3 linked regions of the Homo sapiens genome follow. The protein of the gene in region 1 purifies or fractionates together with the protein of each later gene. This does not show direct contact. Each region holds a gene or a part of one and is shown in the gene's direction. Other genes may lie near its edges.

What was found.
Region 2: the proteins of PRPF19 (region 1) and KNSTRN purify together in Homo sapiens (affinity purification with mass spectrometry; 5 studies listed by BioGRID and IntAct, with this or other methods). This does not show direct contact.
Region 3: the proteins of PRPF19 (region 1) and CTNNBL1 purify together in Homo sapiens (affinity purification with mass spectrometry; 5 studies listed by BioGRID and IntAct, with this or other methods). This does not show direct contact.

What each region holds. Positions count from the first base shown.
Region 1 is NC_000011.10:60,896,544-60,903,715, reverse strand, and holds part of PRPF19 (pre-mRNA-processing factor 19), read left to right. Parts: coding exon 1-4; intron 5-180; coding exon 181-257; intron 258-834; coding exon 835-976; intron 977-1,059; coding exon 1,060-1,133; intron 1,134-1,250; coding exon 1,251-1,313; intron 1,314-2,175; coding exon 2,176-2,217; intron 2,218-2,346; coding exon 2,347-2,421; intron 2,422-2,786; coding exon 2,787-2,862; intron 2,863-3,024; coding exon 3,025-3,134; intron 3,135-4,411; coding exon 4,412-4,567; intron 4,568-4,784; coding exon 4,785-4,854; intron 4,855-5,089; coding exon 5,090-5,175; intron 5,176-5,444; coding exon 5,445-5,615; intron 5,616-5,764; coding exon 5,765-5,870; intron 5,871-7,172. UniProt on the Homo sapiens protein: Ubiquitin-protein ligase which is a core component of several complexes mainly involved pre-mRNA splicing and DNA repair. Required for pre-mRNA splicing as component of the spliceosome.
Region 2 is NC_000015.10:40,377,939-40,385,720, forward strand, and holds the start of KNSTRN (small kinetochore-associated protein), read left to right. Parts: upstream 1-4,782; 5' UTR 4,783-4,897; coding exon 4,898-5,106; intron 5,107-5,289; coding exon 5,290-5,384; intron 5,385-7,782. UniProt on the Homo sapiens protein: Essential component of the mitotic spindle required for faithful chromosome segregation and progression into anaphase.
Region 3 is NC_000020.11:37,689,822-37,697,029, forward strand, and holds the start of CTNNBL1 (beta-catenin-like protein 1), read left to right. Parts: upstream 1-4,208; 5' UTR 4,209-4,301; coding exon 4,302-4,331; intron 4,332-5,105; exon of another isoform or gene 5,106-5,212; intron 5,213-7,208. UniProt on the Homo sapiens protein: Component of the PRP19-CDC5L complex that forms an integral part of the spliceosome and is required for activating pre-mRNA splicing.

The sequences.
Region 1 (7,172 bases):
AAAGGTGCCTATTGGCTGCCTTAGTCTAGGGCCATCTTAGCTCAGAGCCTGAGAGGATGGGAGGTGGTGCCAGTGCACTGGAGGAAGAGATGGTGGGCTGTTTATGGCTAAAAGGAAAAGATGTGATGGCGGGGGAGGCCCCTGGGTTATGTTCTTCATACCTGCTTTCCCTTTCGGCAGTTGCTCACCCAATCCGGCCCAAGCCTCCCTCAGCCACCAGCATCCCGGCCATTCTGAAAGCTTTGCAGGATGAGTGGGTGAGTTCCTGCAAGAGAATCAGCATCTTCCCCACTTGAAGAGAATGCATTGCTGGGTTAGGACTTGGGGGTAGGAAGGATGGAGCATTATTTAGAGGGTAAACTTTGTGACATCAGGGATTTGTTTTATTCTTCGTTGTATCCCCAGCACTGAGAGCAGCACCTGGTACATAGTAGGTGCTCTAGAGTTATGAATTGAATGATTGAATACATCCTGCAGGACTGTCTGGCACAGTGCCTGACACAACGAGGGCGATCAATAAATAGCAGCAGCAGCAGTGTTGTTATTCTCTTTTAGAGAGGGGACGGCATGACAGCTGGGATTTGCCAGTAAGTTAGGGAAGGTGGGGATGGGAAAGAGCTGGCTCCCACTCCTGTCTGTGTGCCCAGTGGTTCGCTTGGGGTAGGAGCTCAAGAGTGTCTGCCGGCACATTCGTGTTTGCTCGGATATTGTTTGGGTCACTGATACTGGTCTAGGCTCTGGGATAGGAGGCAGCATCCCCTCCCCAAGGGCTGACTCCACTGGGTACTCCCTGCACCCCCCACCTCACCTTACAATGATATTTGCTTCTCCCAGGATGCAGTCATGCTGCACAGCTTCACTCTGCGCCAGCAGCTGCAGACAACCCGCCAAGAGCTGTCACACGCTCTGTACCAGCACGATGCCGCCTGCCGTGTCATTGCCCGTCTCACCAAGGAAGTCACTGCTGCCCGAGAAGGTGCAGCCTCTCCCCTGCCATCCCCCACCCTGGGCTGGTTCTGCATTGTAATATCCCATTTCTAACATCGTCTTTTCTCTCAGCTCTGGCTACCCTGAAACCACAGGCTGGCCTCATTGTGCCCCAGGCTGTGCCAAGTTCCCAACCAAGTGTTGTGGTAAGTGTCCCCCTTCCCTTACCAGCAGCCCATTTGTGTACAGTGGCCCACAGAACTGTCCTTATGCAGGTGTCTTTGGTGCTCTGTGCCTCTCACCCTCACCTTTCTTCTCTTCAGGGTGCGGGTGAGCCAATGGATTTGGGTGAGCTGGTGGGAATGACCCCAGAGATTATTCAGAAGGTAAGTCCTGCTCTCACCTGGTGGGAGTGCTGATGGGCCCTTACTTTTCACCATCTGTCTGGAGTCCATCGTGACTAAAATCACTGTGCTTTTGGGAGTTGAGTGGTGCAGAGCATGGACCCTGGGACCAGATTGCCTGGGTTTGTATTTTGATGCCACTACTTGTAAGCTTTATGACCTTGGCTTACTTAGCCAACCCTTACGTGTCTCATTTCCCTAGCTTCTAAACTGAGAATATGATCATATCCACTGTATAGGCAGGCTGTGGGAATTTAAAAGATTTCATTACTGATAAGTGCACCTTTTAGCTCTTATTGTTATTGAGATTCTTTGCAGATAGTAAACTACTTTTATATATTTTCTTGTTTTTTTTCTATGAGGGCAATAGGATAGGAATTATAATCCTTATTTTGCAGATGAAAGACACATCTGAGAGGCAGAGCTGGGCTTCCTGATTGCAAGTCCAGTGGGATTCTCATTTGCAGGGCTTCTTAGTGTCTTTCTGAGCAGTTCAAATTGTCAGCATGTGTCTGAGCCCTTGGCTTAGTGGCGTGTAGACCTATGGGAGCTCTACAGTCCTAGCTTCTATTCTTGCTCTGCTGTTTATCACCTCTGCGACCTTGGGCAATTGACTTCACTTCTCTGAGGCTCAGTTTCCTCAGCTGTAAAATAAGGTCATCAACACCCCCCTCATAAAGCTGGGATGGAAGTAAGAAGAGAGAATGCCTTTAAGCCTGTAACGTAGAAGTTGGCAGATAGCAAGTTCTTGGTGCTGCTTTTGAAAGCACAGGTGTGACCAGCATCTAATGTACTTTTCTCCTTGCAAGATGATTTGTCTCACATTGAGCCTGTTCTTCCCCAGCTTCAAGACAAAGCCACTGTGCTAACCACGGAGCGCAAGAAGGTGAGTTCTCTTTCTGAAGCCTGGAGAAAGAGCTGGCCTGGTGGGAGGCGGTTGACTCCTTAGGAGAGAGAGGGCGGCTGAATCTTGGATTCATTGCTGCTCTTCTTTGGGGGCTTTTCATTTTCTCAGAGAGGGAAGACTGTGCCTGAGGAGCTGGTGAAGCCAGAAGAGCTCAGCAAATACCGGCAGGTGGCATCCCACGTGGTGAGTGTCTGGGTCTCCACTGTCTTGGAGACAGCCCTCCCGTTTTGTTTCTGGGGTGGGCGGGCCAGCATGGGGAGTGCTGAGTGCAGAGCTGTCCCAGGTTCCTGGCGCTGTTCCTGGTGCTGTTTCTCGCCTGGGCTGCTGAGTTGTCAGGGCTCCTCTTTCTGCCCAGCTGTGGGTTTCCTAGTGATGCAGTGAGGGAGTTACCGTACCAGGCAGATAGCCAAGAGGTATGGATAAGGAATAGAAGTAACTCTTGCTCCCCTGAGAACATGGGTGACTGGAGATGGCAGTAGGGGAGGTCTGTGGCTTTGTGGCCTGCTGTGATTTGGCCGTGACAGGGTTTGGTGTGTCTCTCTGCAAAGGGGTTGCACAGTGCCAGCATTCCTGGGATCCTGGCCCTGGACCTCTGCCCGTCCGACACCAACAAGATCCTCACTGGTGAGAGTCTGGGCCTAGCCCGGCAGGCCAAAGTGGGGAGGGGCAGCAGGGAAGGCGCATGCTCCTTGTCCTCTTCATGGGCATGGGAACAAAAGCATTTCCTTGAGCAAAAGGGCCTGGGTGGGCCTGACTCATTGTTTGGTCTTTTTGGGTCTTCTCCAGGTGGGGCGGATAAAAATGTCGTTGTGTTTGACAAAAGTTCTGAACAAATCCTGGCTACCCTCAAAGGCCATACCAAGAAGGTCACCAGCGTGGTGTTTCACCCTTCCCAGGTAAGGGGTTCTCCTCGCCACCCTTGGTTCTTCTTTCCTTGGCTGTTGTTTGTCCCTCACCCCGCTGCTGTCTCTGTGAAGTGGGGCTGGGAAAGAGCTCTGACTCTGACTCCTGAGTGGGCACTTGGAGGGGCTCACTTTGGAGTTGTGGAGATTGCCCTTCACTCTGCGTGAGACCTTCTAAAGCAGTGATCTTCCAGCCAGGGAGAGAACGGAAATGTGTAGTTTGACAAGCATATTCATTGAAATATTTCATATTAGGGAAAGAAAAAATCTTATAGTGTTCCTAATATAAACTACAGAAAACAAAGCTCAACACAATCTCAACTCACACTTACGAGGAGGACAGATATATCTGCTTTCCCATGATCCTCCAAGATGGGTAAAAATCATGTTGACTGTTGAAAGTGGTGTAGGTTGTAAACAGAACCTCTGGTTTACAGGGTAAAGGTAACTCATGGGACCAGATTAATGATATTATGGGATTCGAATTTTAAGCCTAAGACAGTTTGGGTTTGGGGCTGCAGGACATGGTTGGTTTAGTGCTTCGCAGTCAAGATTTCCCTTGGACCTTAGGGAAATGAGAAATATAAGAATAACATGGTGAATTTTTCATGACTAAATTTGTTCAAATTGAGAGCACTGTTTTCTTGCTTATGGGGTATTAATAGTTAGGTCTCATGAAATTGTATTGATAAAAAAAGATGGTAGTTATTTTTACCTTATGGCTTTTAATATCCTAACTAAACAAAAAATTGGTGAGTGACGCGAAATTCTCTCCCTGCCCCAAATCTTTTGGAAAATTAACTTACCCTGGAAATCCATAAAAGTGGAATGCACTGAAATACAGCCATGCAGCCCCTTCCAGTCCCAGTACTGCTCAGACCTGTGCCATACAGTACAGTAGCAGTTAGCTGCATGTGGCTATTTAAATTTCAATGAAATAGAATAAAAAATTCAGTCCCTCAATTGTACTAGCTACATTTTTCCTTTGGTCCTGGAAATGGGAAAATTGCTCTCTGTTGCAGTTAGCCTTTTTACCACTAGATGGCGAGGACGCCTCCACAAGCCCTGATGCTGTATGAGTTAGCACTTTAATAGCGTTTACCATTGGCTGTCTTGGGCACCATTGGGTGGATAGGTGGTTCCAGGGAGGGCAGAGCTGAAAGGAGAAGCAATTGTTGGCAGTTGTGGGCATCCCCAGCCCCGTTTTATAAGATTGTTTTGGTCTGTATCTCTTTTCTGACTCTGATATTCTGTCTTTGTTTTCCTTGTAGGACCTGGTGTTTTCTGCTTCCCCCGATGCCACTATCAGGATTTGGTCGGTCCCCAATGCCTCTTGTGTACAGGTGGTTCGGGCCCATGAGAGTGCTGTGACAGGCCTCAGCCTTCATGCCACTGGCGACTATCTCCTGAGCTCCTCCGATGATCAGGTGCGGTCCCAGCCAGTGCCCTGGAGAGGCCTGCTGGTCCCCAAGCTTGAACATCCTGGGTGGCAGGAACATCTTCCCACCCCAGCTGGTTCCCCAGAACCTCAAAGGAGAATGTTTGCCAGGGTTTGCCAAACCAGGGGCTCTGTCTTGCTGAAGGGCCACCAGAACCTGGGACCCACTTTCTCACTGACTCCATTGTCTCTTTTTTTTTCCCCAGTACTGGGCTTTCTCTGACATCCAGACAGGGCGTGTGCTCACCAAGGTGACAGATGAGACCTCCGGCTGCTGTAAGTTGCCTCATAGGCACTCAGCTTTTTTGTTTGCTGTTTATTATTTATTTTTACATTTTATTTAGTCATTTGTTTATTTGTTCTAAAGATATATTTACCATGAGCACCTGTCTAGTGCGGGCTTTGTGCTGGGTTCACTGAGGAATGTGAAGAACAAGGAACCTACCTTTGCTGCTCTTAGTCTCTCTCCCTGGTGGGCTCTGACCACAGGTCTCTCTTCCCTCCTCCACAGCTCTCACCTGTGCACAGTTCCACCCTGACGGACTCATCTTTGGAACAGGAACCATGGACTCTCAGATCAAGATCTGGGACTTGAAGGTAGGACATGGTAGGCCTCCATCTGAGGCCCAGGGCCAGAGGGAGTGTTTGTGACAATGCAGTGCTAATTAGGTGCTTGTGGCACCTGGCCCTGAAGGTGGAGAGACACTGGCTGTGCGTGTGTGATATGATGGTGTGGTCTGGGGGGTCCCGCTGGCTGTCCTTCCTGGAAGGACGTGAGGGACATCTCAGGTAGGAGTTTGGTGAGCCCCATTTTCTTCCTCTCATGATCTGTGGGTGACGTATTTTACTACCCACCGCCACTGTAGGAACGTACTAATGTGGCCAACTTCCCTGGCCACTCGGGCCCCATCACTAGCATCGCCTTCTCTGAGAATGGTTACTACCTGGCTACAGCGGCTGATGACTCCTCTGTCAAGCTCTGGGATCTGCGCAAGCTTAAGAACTTTAAGACTTTGCAGCTGGATAACAACTTTGAGGTGTGCCCTTCCCCCTCCGCCCAGCTTTCCATTGTGTCTCCTTGTTTGTCAATTATTTATTGAATTAATCTAATTGCTTCTGCTTATCCGCAACTGCCCCATAGTTTCTGTTCCCCTTGTGTGACCTTCTCTCTTTCTATTTCTGGCAGGTAAAGTCACTGATCTTTGACCAGAGTGGTACCTACCTGGCTCTTGGGGGCACGGATGTCCAGATCTACATCTGCAAACAATGGACGGAGATTCTTCACTTTACAGGTAGAGGCTGGTCCTGGGCTCCTGGGATCTCTCTAGGTGCCCAGGCCCGGAGGGAAGCCTCACTGGGTTAGGAATTTCTAGGGCTTGCATGAATTTACCTAAGCAGCTTTCTGTTACCACCTGAGGCAGAGCTTTATGACTAAGGAAGCAACTGAGTCAGACTGCATGGCAGTAGATGCTAGTGCTTGTTCTGCCACTTCCATGCCCTGTGGCATTGGGCAGGTTACTAAAGGGAGAGAAAAGTCCCTCTGAAGTTTTGATAACTGAATCTAAAATAAATGAACATTAGACAGTGACAGGAGGAGAGCCATTTTAATTACGTGCATATGCACGGGAGGCCCACATTATATTAGATCTGCAGAAGGGTCAGATGATTGAAGCTTATACAGTTTATATATCACTTAATAATGGGGATATGTTCTGAGAAATGTCTTGTTAGGTGATATCGTCATGTGCGACCATTGTAGAGTGAACTTACATATATCTAAATGGTGTAGCCTACTACACGCCAAGACTATTGCTATAACCTTAGTATAGTCTATTATTGCTCCTAGGCTACAAACCGGTACAGCATATTAAATGTAGTGAATACAATTATAACACAATGGTAAGTATTTGTGTATCTAAACAAGTGTAAACATAGAAAAGGTTCAGTAAAAATAAGGTATAAGAGATTTTTTTAAAATGGTACACTGGTATAGTGCTTGCCATGAAAGGAGCTTGCAGGACTGGAAGTTGCTTTCAGTGAGTGAGTTGTGAGTGAATGTGAAGGCCTAGGACATTACTGTACGCTGCTGTAGACTTTATAAACACAGTACACTTAGGTTTTACTAAATTCATAAAAAACTTTTTCTTCAGTAATAAGCCTTAGCTGACTTTTACTTTATAAACTTAAAAAAATGGATTCTTTTGTAATAACATTTAACTTAAAACTAAAACACATTGTACAGCTGTACAAAAATATTGTCTCTCTTTACATCCTTGTTCTATAAGCTTTTTTCTAATTTTTTTATTTTTATTTTTTACTTTTTAAACTTTTCTTGTTAAAAACTAAGACACAAGCACACATTACCCTAGGCCTACACAGGATCAGGATCACCAACTGTATTAGTCCGTTCTCACACTGCTATGAAGAACTGCCTGGGTAATTGATAAGGGAAAGAGGTTTAATTGACTCACAGTGACTCGGGAGGCCTCAGGAAACTTACAGTCATAGCAGCAGGGAAAGCAAACATGTCTTTCTTTACATGGCAACAGGAGAGACAAATGCTGAGCAAAGGGGCTAAAGCCCCTCATAAAACC
Region 2 (7,782 bases), on another chromosome or scaffold:
AAACATTGCTGGAACCTACCTAACAAATCTCAAAAGCAAGACCTGAATTCAGGAATCAAGCTGTTTCTAAGTAACTGAAGTGTATCCCAGAACAAAACCCAAGAACATTAACAGAAATCCAAAATTAACGAGCACCCAAAAATGTAAAATTCACAATGGCTGGTTTTCCAATAAAAAATTACCAGTCATGCAAACTATAACCCATCATAAGGAGAAAAATCAGTTGAAACCACTACAGCTGACACCTATGTGAGAATTAGACAAGGACACTAAAAGAATTATTATAACTGTATTCCATATGTACTAAGTAGAGACTAGGAAGATATTTTTAAATACCCACTTTGAATTTTAGAGACGAAAACTAAAATGTCTGAGATGATGGGGTGGGTGGGGTAGGCAGAAAGAGGAGGATGGGAAGAAGTACCAAGGGGAAGGAGGAATGATTTGGGGATGACGGCTGTGTTTATTATCTTAATTGTGGTGATGGTTTCACAGGTATATGTAATTTCTAAACTTATCAAATTGTACACTTAAAATATGTGGTCTATGGAATGTTAATTATATCTCAATAAAGCTGTTAAAATTGTACTGAAACAAAACCATTGGGGGAAACTGGGTAAAGAGTCCAAAGGACCTCCCTATACTATCATTGTAACTTCCTGTCAATTATAACGATTCCAAAATAAAGAATTTAAAAGTGTTTTTAAAATTAAAAAAAAAAAGTCTGAGATGGAAAATCACTGAATGGAATTAACAACAGTTTAGACGTTGCAGAAAAAACAGTAGTGCACTTGAAGACATAACAATAGAAATTATCCAAAAAACACCAAGAGAAAGAATTTTAGAAATGAATACAAAGGGCTAGGCGCAGTGGCTCATGCCTGTAATCCCAACACTTTGGGAGGCTGAGGCGGGCGGATCACCTGAGGTCAGGAGTTCGAGACCACCCTGGCCAACATGGTGAAACCCTGTCTCTGCTAAAAATACAAAAATTAGCCTGGTGTGGTGGTGCATGCCTGTAATCCCAGCTACTCAGGAGGCTGAGGCAGGAGAATCGCTTGAGTACGGGAGACAGAGGTTGCAATGAGCCGAGATGGCACCACTGCACTCCAGCCTGGGCAAAAGAATGAGACTCCATCTCAAAAAAAAAAAAAAAAAGAAAAAAGAAAAGAATACAAAGTATACACAATGTGACCAGGTGGGTGGCTCATGCCTGTAATCTCAGCACTTTGGGAGGCCAAGGTGGGAGAATCAGTTGAGGCCAGGAGCTCCCGACCAGCCTGGGCAACATAGCAAGACTTCATCTCCACAAAAAAATTTTAAAATTAGCCAGGCATGGTGGCACGTGCCTATAGCCCCAACTACTTGGGACGCTGAGGCAGGAAGATCGCTTGAGCCCAAGAGTTGAAGGCTGCAGTGAGCTATGATCGCACAACTGCACTCCAGCCTGGGAAACCAAGCGAGACCGTATCTCAAAAAAAAAGAAAAAAAGTATACACAATATACAACAGGCAGAAAGTATGTCCTTTACAATGATTTAAAGTTATGAAAAAAATTTAAGCCAGGTGAGATAGTGCATGCCTACAGTCTTGGCTACTTAGGAGGCTGAAGTGAGAGGATGGCTTGAGTCCAGAAGTTCAAGGCTACAGTACGCTATCTATGATCACACCTGTGAATAGCCACTGCACTCTAGCCTGGGTGACATAGCAAGATCCTGCCTCTAAAAAAATAAAAATAAAAGTAAACTTAAATTTTAGGTATCAAGTGAAAACAGGCAAGAGGGTTTTTTTATTTTTTTATTTTGTGGGGGCGCATGAATAAAGGAATTTAAAGATGCTACTCTGGATCCCATCTTCCTTCTTCCTTGCTCCTGAGTATCCTTTCCCTCTGTTCTGCTGGCTCGTTCCTATCAGCACACATATCCACAGCTTTAAGGAAAGCTTCCTTTGACCCCCATAACCCATCTCCAGTTACTGCCCAGTTGCTCTGCTCTTTTTGCAACAGACGCCTGGAGTTCTGCCATCTCTGCTTCCTCATCTCCCACGTACTCTTCAACCCATGCCCATGTGACTGCCACTCCAAACGCTCCACCAGCATTCCTCTTGCTAGACTCATCATGACTTCTCTGTTGCTAAATTCATTGGATGCTTTTCGTTCTCATTCTGCTTGCCCTTTCAACTATTTTCAATAGTTCACCACTCCCTCCTTCAGCAGCTTGCCACTTCCTCCTTGGATTTTGGAACACCACCCTTTTTTGTTTTCTTCTCACCTCTCTGGCACTTCTTTATCAGGTTTCTTGGCAAGCACCTTATTACCATTGCAACTTTTAAATGCAGGTGTCCCTGTCCTTGGCCCAAAGGCTCTCTGCACACTTCTTCTCTTGAGCTCATCAAATATCAAGGTTTTATTTTATTTTTTATTTTATTTTGTTTGAGACAGAGTCTCGCTCTGTCACCCAGGCTGGAGTACAGTGGCACCATCTCGGCTCACTGCAACCTCCACCTCTGAGGTTCAAGTCATTCTCCTGCCTTAGCCTCCCAAGTAGCTGGGATTACAGGCATGCACCACCATGCCTGGCTAGTTTTTTGTATTTTTAGTAGAGATGGAGTTTCACCATGTTGGCCAGGCTGGTTTCGAATTTCTGGCCTTAAGTGATCCCACCTCAGCCTCCCAAAGTGCTGGGATTACAGGTGTGAGCCACTGTGCCTGGCCATTTTTTTGTATTTTTAGCAGAGACGGGGTTTCATCATGTTGGCCAGGCTGGTCTCGAACTCCTAAATATCAAGATTTTAAGTACATTCATATGTCAACAACTCCCAAGGGTGTATCTCCAATCCAGGCTCTCTTCTGGGCTCAGGGCCTGTATTTCCAATTGCCTACTTGACCACTCCACCGGAATGCCTCAAAGATATGTCGAGGTTTTCCACGTTCAAAACCCAACTCTCAATCTCCCCCAGCAGAAAATAGTGACTCTATCCACACAATTATTCAAGCCCAATTATTCGAAAAGAAAAAGGACTGGGCGTGGTGGCTCACGCCTGTAATCCCAGTACTTTGGGAGGCCGAAGCGAGCAGATCACCTGAGGTCAGGAGTTTGAGACCAGTCTGGCCAACATGGTGAAACCCCGTCTCTACTAAAAATATAAAAAATTAGCCAAGCGTGGTGGTGGCACTGTAGACCCAGCTACTCGGGAGACTGAGGCAGGAGAATCGCTTTAACTCAGGAGGCGGAGGTTGCAGTGAGCCGAGATCGTGCCACTGCACTCCAGCCTGGGCAACAGAGTGAGACTCCGTCTCCAAAAAAAAAAAGAAAGAAAAGAATATATATATAAAGTATATATAAATTGAGCCAGGTACAGTGGCTCATGCCTGTAATTCCAACACTTTGGGAGGCTGAAGTGGGAGGATCATTTGAGGCCAGGGGTTTAAGACCAGCCTGGGCATCATAGCAGGACCCCATCTCTACAAAAATTAGCTGGGTCTGGTGGCAGGCACCTTTAGTCTTAGCTACTCAGGAGGCCGAGGTGGGAGGATCTCCTGAGCCCAGGAGTTCAAGGTTGCAGTGAACTATGATTGCACTCCAGCCTGGGCAACAGAGTGAGACCCTGTCTCAAAAAATAATAATAAAATAAAATAAAATATAAATTGGATGACACTCTCCTGCTATAATACTTCAGTGGCTTTCCATTACTTTTAGATAAAATCTAATCTCTATACCTTGGCCTGTAAAATCTGTCTTTTGACTGCTTATTTCTCCAGCTTTATCTGTACCACTCTCTTCCTATCTTTCTGTGCCTATAGAAGAACCCATTTCTGCCTTGGGACTTTGCATTTTCCCCTTTCCCCAATGAAATTAACTCCCTCTCCTTCCTTAATCAAACATCATCTCAGAGAGGTCTTCCCTGAGCCCCCAATATAATCTAAGTTTCCCTGCTTTTCTATCTTATACGATTTTGTACTTTTTCTTCATAGTGTGTGTGTTTTGGTTTGATTTTTGAGATCACGCTCTGTCACCCAGGGTGAAGTGCAGTGGCGCGATCTCCGCTCACTGCAACCTCTGCCCCGCCCAGGGTCACATAATTCCCCCACCTCAGCCTCCAGGGTAGCTGGGACTACAGGAGCATGCCACGACACCTGGCTAATTTCTGTATTTTTTGTAGAGACGGGGTTGCACCATGTCGCCCAGGGTGGTCTCAAACTCCTGGACTCAAGCAATTCACCCGCCTCCACCTCCCAAAGTGCTATAATTACAGCTGTGAGCCACTGTGCCCAGCCTTCTTCACAATTTCACCACAATCCGTAAATATATATTTATTTATGTGATTATTTGTTCACTGTCTGTTTTCTAAGTTGTAAACTCCAGGAGGGCAGAGCCAAGGTCAATCTTGATATTTGCCCTCCCTCACTCCCTTCCACCCACTGAGAACACTGTTGGGTAATCAGCAGGTACTCAATAAATGCCAGATGAAATGAATGAGCTAGTGCATTTAGTAATGGAAGCTACCCTGTTTATTGGGAGTAGCTTTGAATCACTACTGAAAATCTGGATAAGTGCTATTAAAATTAGGACCTCAGGTAGGTGCCTCAGGTATCTCAGCCCATAGGTCCTTTTCTTCAAGCCTCACCTGCCACTCTCCACCTGTAACGTGTAGTTTTCATCCAAATAACCTGTGCTCCTGGCAATATCCCTAACAATCCCAAACTAAATAAAGAGGATTGTGACATGGACCCTAAATGTCGCCACGTTTGCGTCTCCATCCCGGAATATGACGCTGGTAGCTCATTAGCTCCATTCAAGCCTACAAATTGCATCACCCTCCTCCTCTGCCCAGACCTGGGGGCTCCAACACCTTTCGCTAGGTCTGGCTCTGGCCTCTGAGCGAACCTTCCGTACAGTATGGCGGCTCCCGAAGCCCCGCCCCTGGACAGAGTTTTCCGTACAACATGGCTGTCTACAGAGTGCGATTCCCACCCACTTCCGCCTAGCTACCGGAAGTTTCTATTTGAAACCCAGGCGGCCGACTTAGCCGGTGGCACGACAGTTGCTGCAGGGAATCTTTTAAACGAGAGCGAGAAGGACTGCGGGCAGGACCGGCGGGCTCCTGGGTTCGGCTCTCCCGGGGCGAGGGACTGGGCTGGATGGGAGGAAGGACGGAATGAGCTGGGAAAGGAGGATTTTCTCTTTTCCAACCCCGAGCCGGGGCCTGTCGGGTCGCGCTATCCCCGGGCCCTCCACTCTCTCGGGCCCAGTGGCCCAGCGCTGGGTAACATTCATCCTGTACCTTCCAGGGTTCAGCCGTGCCGCCTCGTTACGATGACCAGTGTGGTTAAGACAGTGTATAGCCTGCAGCCCCCCTCTGCGCTGAGCGGCGGCCAGCCGGCAGGTGAGGGTCCAAGCCACGCCCGGGGCACTGCGGCCTGGCCGGGGATGGTCTCGGGAGTGTGGAGATCGAATGGGTGGCGCGGGCACGGGGAAGGGCGTCCCGTCGGCCCTGAAAACCTGTGAGCCCCCTATAACCAGGCTATGTAGGTTTATGATGGGAGTTAAGGGAAGGACCATGTGGTAGGATTTTAGACGTGCTCTGCACTTTTCTGCCCGCATGTGTACTGTATTCATCAGTTAGATTCAAGTTGTTGGTTATTGTACAATGTTATTCCCATTAAGCTAGGAATCCCCTTCTAATCGGTTATCGTCTTATTTCCAGACTTGGGCTATCTTGAGGGATTGGGTTTGTTTTCAGGGAGGAAAGAGGAGAATCATTTGAGAAGTGGGATACTTAGGGTTCTTTGTTCACCTTTATATCTGCACCGTGTTTCTCATTACCACATTCTCAATACACGTTTGTTGAGTGAAGTGGGAGAGAGGGGTTAGACCTAGGCACAGTATTTGAGAAACTTGGGCGAAGAGAGAGACATGATTAAAAATAGTTTTTAATTGCTTTGCCATCTGCTTTGTGTTGCTTTGCTTGTGGTTGAAAGTCATCTCATGGGGTCTGCAGTCGGGGAACTGCCTAATCTAGAGATTATAGTACAGAGTAAGCTTCAGACATCAGAAAACTGTTGTGGGAGATTATGGAGTAGCTATTTATGATCCCTTCCCAGATGATTCCACTCAGCTGGTACATAAACCTTGGCAAGATGGAGCGCTGAAGTGGCCAGGCACGGTGGCTCACGCCTGTAATCCCAGCACTTTGGGAGGGCGAGGTGGGCAGATCACGAGGTCAGGAGATGGAGACCATCCTGGCTAACACGGTGAAGCACCGTCTCTACTAAAAAATACAAAAACTTAGCCGGGCGTGGTGGCGGGCGCCTGTAGTCCCAGCTACTTGGGAGGCTGAGGCAGGAGAATGGCGTGAACCCGGGAGGCGGAGCTTGCAGTGAGCCGATATTGCGCCACTGCACTCCAGCCTGGGCGACAGAGCGAGACTCCGTCTCAAAAAAAAAAAGATTGAGCTCTGAAGTAAATAGGCTTTTCTCCAAAGGCTTAATGGGTTGTTTGTTGTCTTGTGTTGCCGCAGAACACCTGAATGGTAATCCTGGCACCAGCGGGGACTAGGAGTTGCTGGAAGAACTGGAGCCAGGTCTCTCAGCTGCTGTGTCTTTCCCTTAGATGCGGTGCCCCTGAGTCAGTGGGCAGTGACTAGCTCTCTCAGCCAAGTTGGAAGTGTTCATCTCTTTGATTTCTATCTCTGTCCCAGCTTTATGATCATATGTAACTGGAACAGTTTCAAATTTTTAGGCTGCCTCCCAGGATTTTTGTTTTGATTTTGAGCGTGGGCTGGATAAGTAATATATGCACATGTGAAAAAAAAAAAGGTGGAAAACCATATACAATGATAAACAAGTTTCCTTCCCTTCCTTGACACCAGCCATCCAGTTCCTCTCCCAGTGTCTCCCATTTTTAAGAGACAGCTTTGTTAAATCCTACTGAATTTTTCCTACAGTGCAATCCTAGATTTTAGCAAATACAAATTATTGGAACCAATTCTAGTCAATGAAGAGTGTTAATTTTGATCAATTGACTGTTAACTCCATTTTACATGGAGTAGATTTGTTATTGTTTAAAACTTACTAATACTTGAGAGAGGAGAAGATGATATTCCTCCAAGATTACCTTTTTCTTCAGACAGACACCTCAGAAAGAACCCTTTTAATACTTCATTTGTACTGCATTTCTTCAATTTGATTTGATTGTAATGGCTCTTAAGTTAGGTCAAACTTAAAGGGGCCATTTTACAGTGAACAAAGTGAGAGTAAGTCCAGAAAAGCCTGCATGTGAGGGTGGGGGTGCTTAACTCCAGATAAGTTACTTGAATTTGCTGTAGAACACAAATGATAGATTGTGTGGTTGCGGGGCTGGCACAAGGATAGAGGAAAATGCTCTCCTTTGGGGAAGAAGAGTGTTATGGCAGGGCCATTTCTCTGGTTATCTGGCAAGAAGATCAGATTAGAATGCCTAATAGGGAAACTCTAAACTTAACAAAGGGTAAACAAAAGGGCTAGTGGTAGAGGCAGGCAGCATGGAAGAGGAAGGGACCAGACAGGTGGTTTAGAGATGGTCTGTGAAACAACCCATGGAACTGTGAAGTGTTTCATTTATTCAACAAGCAGTTATTGAACCCCTGTTCATATGCCAGATACTTTCCTAGGTGATGGGGACACAAAGATGCCTTAGAATGGTTAGGAAGACATTCTAGTAAAAACAACGAAGTAACGGTTTAAAAAAACTCAGAGCAGCTCAGTCATGCCTTAGGAGAGTGTGCAGAGTGCTTGGAGGAGCTT
Region 3 (7,208 bases), on another chromosome or scaffold:
AATGGACCCTCTCATCAAGATAAAATGAAAATATCTTAATCTGGCATTCAAGTTTCTCCAAGATTAGGGTTGCCAGATAAAATAAATAATGCCCATTTAATTCTGAATTTCAGACAGAAAACATTTTTAGTATGTTATTAAATATTGCATGAGACAAATTTATAAAAAATTCATTATTTGTCTGAAATTCAGATTTAACTGGGTGTCCTGTATTTTTATTTGCTAAATCTGTTAACCCTCTTCGTGATCTTCTCCAGCCAGCCTCTCCACCTTTTCTTCCACACATTTGAAGCTCTGTCCACAAGGAAGGGTCCAATTGCCTTGTCTTTGCTCATGCTGTTCCCTCTGCCTGGGTCACCATTCTCCCACTGTATCTTCTTGGTAAACTCTTCTTTCCCTTTAAACCCCTGTCCAGATGTTACGTTCTCAGGGAAACCTCTAGCAGAGCACATTAGCCCCAGTTCAGGGTGCTCACCAAACCTGGTTCTTATAGGATTTTGCCTTATAATTCTGTGTTTTAGAACTGGTCTCTACAAAAACAGACAAGACTGATTGCCTAAAAAGGAAAGGTTATAAGGAATTCTCTCATTCTTCCTGCCCTCTCCCTTGCCCCTATCCCACTCAACTCCTTTTTCTTTCTTTTTTTTTTTTTTTTTTTTGAGAGACAAGGTCTTGCTCTGTCACCCAGGATGCAGTGGCACAATCCTGGCTCACTGCAACCTCTGCCTCCTGGGCTCAAGTGATTCTCCAGCCTCAGCCTCCTGAGTAGCCGAGACTACAGGCACGTGCCACCACATCTGGCTAAATTTTTTTTCTATTTTTTTGTAGAGACAGGGTCTCACTATGTTGCCCAGGCTGGTCTCGAACTCCTGGGCTCAAGGGATCCGCCTTGGTCTCCCAAAGCTCTGGGATTACAGACATGAGCCACCGTGCCCAGCTGCCAACTCCTTACAATATTAATATAAGACACACAGCACTTTTCTGTGCCAGGCACTGTGCCAAGTGCTTTGCATACAGCATTTCATGTAAACCCTCCATAACCTTATGAGGTAGATTTGGTTGAATCTCCACTTTGCAGGTGAGAAAATCAGGCATGTAGAGGTGAAGTTCATTGCCACTGTTTCCACATCTGTAAAATAAGACTCATATCAACATTTTCTCCATGAGGTTTTCACCCAAACTAGAATGTAGGTTTCCAGAAGGCAGGAGCTTTGTTTTATAAACTTCCATATCCTCAGAGCCCAGAATTGTGCCTAGCATTGAGTAGGCTCTCAGTAAATACTTGTTGAATGAATGAATGAATGAATGAGTCATGTTACAGATAAGGAAAGTGTAATTTAGGGACAGAGAAAGTAACTTACCCAAGGACCCATGGCTAGATATGGTGGAACTTCCACTAGAACCAGAATCAGGGTGTGTTGGGTAGATGTTTAACAACTGGCTCGGCTGGGTGCAGTGGCTCATGCCTGTAATCCCAGCACTTTGTGAGGCCAAGGCGGGGGGATTGCTTGAGCTCATGAGTTTGAGACCAGCCTGGGCAGCATGGTGAAACTCTATTTCTACAACAACAGCAACAACAACAACAACAACAAAATAAGCCAGGCATGGTGGCGCACGCCTGTAGTCCTAGCTATTTGGGAGGCTGAGGTGGGCTTCAGCCCGGGAGGGGGAGGTTGCAGTGAGCTGAGATCCCGCCACTGCACTCCAGCCTGGGTGATAGAGCCCGAGCTTGTCTCAAAAGCAAACAAAGAAACAAAAAAACCCTACAAGTAGCTCTCTGGAAAAACAACAACATTAACAACCCTGATTTGTAGCATTTGCTGATTTACATTGTACAAATACTCCTAGCATGGCTGATTTCAAGCTATCAACCTGGTGTCAATCAGCTTGCAAGTTTCCTACAAATTTAACCATGGGCTTTTGTAGACCTGTCTGTGCAAGCTGGCATCAACATACCATGAACTAGAACACAGGGGTCTGGGTCCAAAGGGTACACCCTCACCATTACTCTCTCCTGTCTTCCCAAACAAGGCACAGTCTATATTCTATTTTTTTTTTTTTTTTTTGAGACGTAGTCTTGCTCTGTCGCCAGGCTGGAGTGCAGTGGTGCCATCTTGGCTCACTACAATCTCCACCTCCCTGGTTCAAGCGATTCCCCTGCCTCAGCCTCCCAAGTAGCTGGGACTACAGGCACGTGCCACCACACCTGGCTAATTTTTTGTATTTTAGTAGAGATGGGTTTTCACCATGTGGGCCAGGAAGATCTCAATCTCCTGACCTCGTGATCTGCCCTCCTCGGCCTCCCAAAGTGCTGGGATTACAGGCGTGAGCTACCACACCCGGCCGGGCACAGTCCATATTCTTATATAAGTAGGAGGGGGAAAGACACCCAAATAGACTGAATTCAATGCAGATTGCATAGGTGATCCTTTAAAAACATAAGCCCAGTCACAAAACTACCTTGCTTAAAACTTTCCTTATGCCGTTAGCATAAAATCCAATCTCTCTCTCTTTTTTTTTTTTTTTTTTTTGAGACAGAGTCTTGCTCTGTCACCCAGGCTGGAGTGCAGTGGTGGAATCTCAGCTCACTACAGCCTCTGCCTCCTGGGTTCAAGCGATTCTCCTGCTTCAGCCTCCCAAGTAGAGGCATGTGCCACCATGCCCAGCTAATTTTTGTAATTTTTAGTAGAGACGAGGTTTCACCATGGTGGTCAGGCTGGTCTCAAACTCCTGACTTCAAGTGATCTGCCCGCCTTGGCCTCCTAAAGTGCTGAGCTTACAGGCGTGAGCCACCACGCCCGGCCACGCCTAGCCAAAATCTAATCTCTTTACCATGGCACACAAGGCCCATTATGAAACCTCTCCCTCTACCAGGCACTGTACTAGGCTTGGGGGATACAGTGGTGAACATGACACACACATGTCCTGCTTGCATAGAGCTTGCAATCCAGTAAATGAGGCTGTCAAGAAACAAATAGTCAACCATTAAGCACAAAATTACAGAATGAGATATATACGTAGTGGAGCAGGTACTTGGAAAAAGAATAATGAGGAGAGAGGTTGATTACCTGGACCAGGGTGAGTTGAAGAAGCCCTTGTAAGAAAGTGACATTTGAGACCCGAAAGATGAGAGAATTGGATGAGGTATGGTGCTGATGGCCAGGCAGAAGGGGAGAGGATTTGTCATTCTGAGGAATAAGAATAATTTCTGTATAATTGGAGCCAGTGCAGATGGGATGGGGACCAAAATTATAAATATGAAGGGCATATAAATATAATATAATACATAAATATAATTATAAATATAAAGGACAGGGGCTTATGGAAGGAGGTTTAATTTCCTTTGAAGATGGAGCCTTAAGTCCCAGGTGCATTCTGATCTTGTTTAAGATCAGATGCACTCTGAATGATTCTCTTCCAATTATGGGCAACTTTCTCCTCCAGAAACCTTTTTATATCACCTGGGTAGCAAGGGGATCATCTAGTGACCGTTAGACTTCGCATAGATGAGCAGACACAAGCCTAGAGAGGGACATGTGATCACCAATAGTTTCTCAGCCAGTAATAGTTGTACAGCCTTGGAACAAGTCACTTTTTGAGCCAGCACTATCTGATAGAAATTAATGGGAACCACAAATGAGAGCCACATGTGTAATTTAAAACTTTCTACTAACCACATTTAAGAAGTAAAGAGAAACAGGTAAAATTCATTTTATAATATATGAATTTGACCCAGTATATCCAAAATATCATTTCAACCTGTAATCAATGTAAGTCTTAGAAATCTGGTGTGTATTTTATTTACACTTATGGCACATCTCACTTCGGAGTAGCCATATCTCAAGCGCTCGGTAGCCATATGTGGCTAGTGAGTAAAGTATTGGATGGTGCAGTTGGGAGCGTCAGTTTCCTTTTCTGTGAAATGAGGATAAATCACTGGAAGCTCGTGAGAGCGCACACGAAACACCCGGCACTCCGCCCTGGACACTAGGGACGCGCAATCAAGTTTGGTTTCTTCTGGTCCCTGCTCTCCCCTCCCGCCCCTCCTCTAAGTCTCCGCCCCCTTTCCCCGCCCCCTCAGGCTCCAGGCGGAAGCAACCCTGTTCCAAATGCAGCGCGCTTTACGGCGGCGCGTCCTTTTACCGCGGTGTGGCCGGCTCGCTTGTCGCTCGCACTTTTGCCCTATTGGCTCTGCGGCTCCGCTCGCCGCACTTTACGGCAGTGTGGCTGGAGCCGCGGCTGACGGGCCCGCGGTCTGGGCGTGAGTGCAGGGAAGTGGAGTATTTGCTGGGCCGGGTACCATGGACGTGGGCGAACTTCTGAGCTACCAGGTATGAGGGGCAGGGAGGGCCGAGCGACCGCGTTCTCACCTGGGCAGGGGTCGCAGGAGCCAGAGCCCTTTCATCTCACCTCCTCTCGCCTCACTCCCGGGCCCTCTAACTTCTCATGCCACCCGGGGTCTCAGCCCCTCGTTTTACTTTGCTCTCCGAAGCCCTCCTGGGCCCTTTCGATTCATCCCTTCTCAAGACCTGAGCCCTTCACCTCCTCTTCCTCACCCTGGGGCCTGGTTCCCTGAAACTCCTCTGAAACCCCAGACTATCCTTTTTTTCACAACCATGTCCTCTCAGCTCTCATGTCCCCCCAGTCATTGAGGTGATGGTGGTGGCGGCGGTGGGAGTGCACTGGTCTCACTTGGATTTGATCTCCAGCTTCTCCACTGACTGGCTATGTGGCTTTTGGACAAGTCATTCCCCCCCTCTTTGAACCAAGTTTTTGTATCTATATAGTGGAGACACTAATAACTGCCTTAGTAGGGTTGTTTGAGGACTGTACCAACTGATATGTATGAAAGCTGGTTTTAAAGTGTGGAAAGCTGTGCTTGTGTTTACTGCGATTTGCAGGAGATGTTGGGAATTCTAGCATGGAATGAGTTTCTAGGAATCTTGCTCAGGGTCCCCCTTGCCTAGGAAACTTGTGGGGAAACTGTATGGGACCTAGAGAGCAGAAAGGGCTTGTCCAAAGTCACTCAGAAACAAGGAGCTGGAATTTGAGCTCAGGCGTACTGACTTCCACCCCAAAGTTTTTCCCCCACTTTGATTCCATAGGAGGGTCATTGCGAGGAGCAGTAGAGCTGCACTGCCGAATGTCGTAGCCACTAGCCACATAGGCTGTTGATTGCTTGAAATGTGACTAGTCTGAATTGAGAAATACTGTAAGTATAAAGACACATTTGGGTTGGAGACTAGTATGGAAAAAGTGAAATTTTTATATTGATTACATGATCGTACTGATTATATCAATTACATTGGTTATTGGTCATATTGATTAAATGATCATATTTTGGATAATGGGTGAAATAAAATATACTTAATTAATTTTTAAAATTTTATTTTATTGTTATTTAGAGACAGGATCTTGCTCTGTCGCCCATGCTGGAGTGCAGTGGCACAATCATTGCTCACAGTAGCCTTAAACTCCTAGGTCTAAGGTATCCTCCCAAGTAGCTAGGACTGCAGGCAGGCATCACTATGCTTGGCTGATTTTTAAATTTTTTGTAGAGACAGGGTCTTGCTATGTTGCCCAAGATGGTCTCAAACTCCTAGCCTCAAGCAGTCTTCCCACTTGGCCTCCCAAAGTGCTGGGATTACAGGTATGAGCCACCACACACCACACTCAGCCAATAAAATATGTTTAAAACCAATTTTAACTGCCCCTCTTGACATTTTAATGTGTTTACTAGAAAATTTAAAACAACATATATAGTTCAGCTTATATTTTTGTTAGACAGCCCTGCAGTCAAGAATAGGTGATTAAGAGCCATGAGTCTGGACCCCTAGGTTGCTGGCAGTCTCTGTTTTGCTACTAACTGGCTGCTGTAACCTTGAACAAAATACTTAATTTCTCTCTGCCTTGGTTTCTTCATCTGTAAATGGGGGACAGTGACGGTAGCTGCCTCACAGGGCTGTTGTGAAGCTGTTGAGAAATGGAAAGTCCTTAGACAATGCTTGCCAAAGAGTAAACATTCAGTAAATATTAGCAGTTATTTTCATACCACTCCCTCAGCCAAAGTACAAGAAATTGACCCTGGACGCTTAAGACATCATGGGAAAGAACAGTTCAGCAATGGGGAGCTATATAGCCAAGAGATTTTTCTTTTAAAGACAGTTTAATTGATAGTGAAAGATGAAGGGAAATAGGCAAGTTATTAAATCAGTGATTGTATGCCGGCTTGGAATTTCTAGAATGGCTAGCCCATTAAAGCTAGAAGAGTTTCATTCATTTGCTCAACAAATATATATTGAACACCTACTGTGTGCAAGGCAGTCTATCCACTGGGTATACAACACTGAATAAAAGACAAGATTCTTGCTTTTGTGGAGCATCTGGTGGGAAGTTACAAGATAATAAGTAAACAATGCATTCAGTTTGTGGTAAGTGCTGGGAAGGGAATATAGCAGAGTATGCTATAAAATTGCACTGCTTTGTATAGTAGCCACTAGGCACATGTGATTATTGAATACTTAAAATGTGACTAGTTTCGAATTTAGATCTGCTACATGTGCAAAATACACACTGGATTTCAAAGATTTAGTATGAAAATAATGTACAATATCTTTTTTTTTTTTTTTTTTTTTTTTTGAGATGGAGTTTCACTCTTGTTGCCCAGGCTGGAGTGCAATGGTGAGATCTCAGCTGACTGCAACCTCTGCCTCTTGGGTTCAAGCGATTCTCCTGCCTCAGCCTCCTGAGTAGCTGGGATTACGGGCATGCGCCACCACGCCTGGCTAATTTTTGTATTTTTAGTAGAGATGGGGTTTCTCCATGTTGGTCAGGCTGGTCTTGACTCCCAACCTCAGGTGATCTGCCAGCCTTGGCCTCCCAAAGTGCTGTGATTACAGGCGTGAGCCACTGCCCCTGGCCACGTGAAAATAATGTACAGTACCTTAACTTTTATGCTGATTACATGTTGAATAAATGATAACACTTACGATATATTGGATTAAAGAAAATATATTATTAAAATTAATGTTGCTTTTTAAAAAACTTTTAAAATGTGGCTACTAGAAAATGTAAAGTGGGCCGGGTGTGGTAGCTCATGCCTGTAATCCCAGCACTTTGGAAGGCTGAGGCGGGTGGGTCACCTGAGGTTGGGAGTTTGAGACCAGCCTGACCAACATGAAGAAACCATGTCTCTACTAAAAATATAA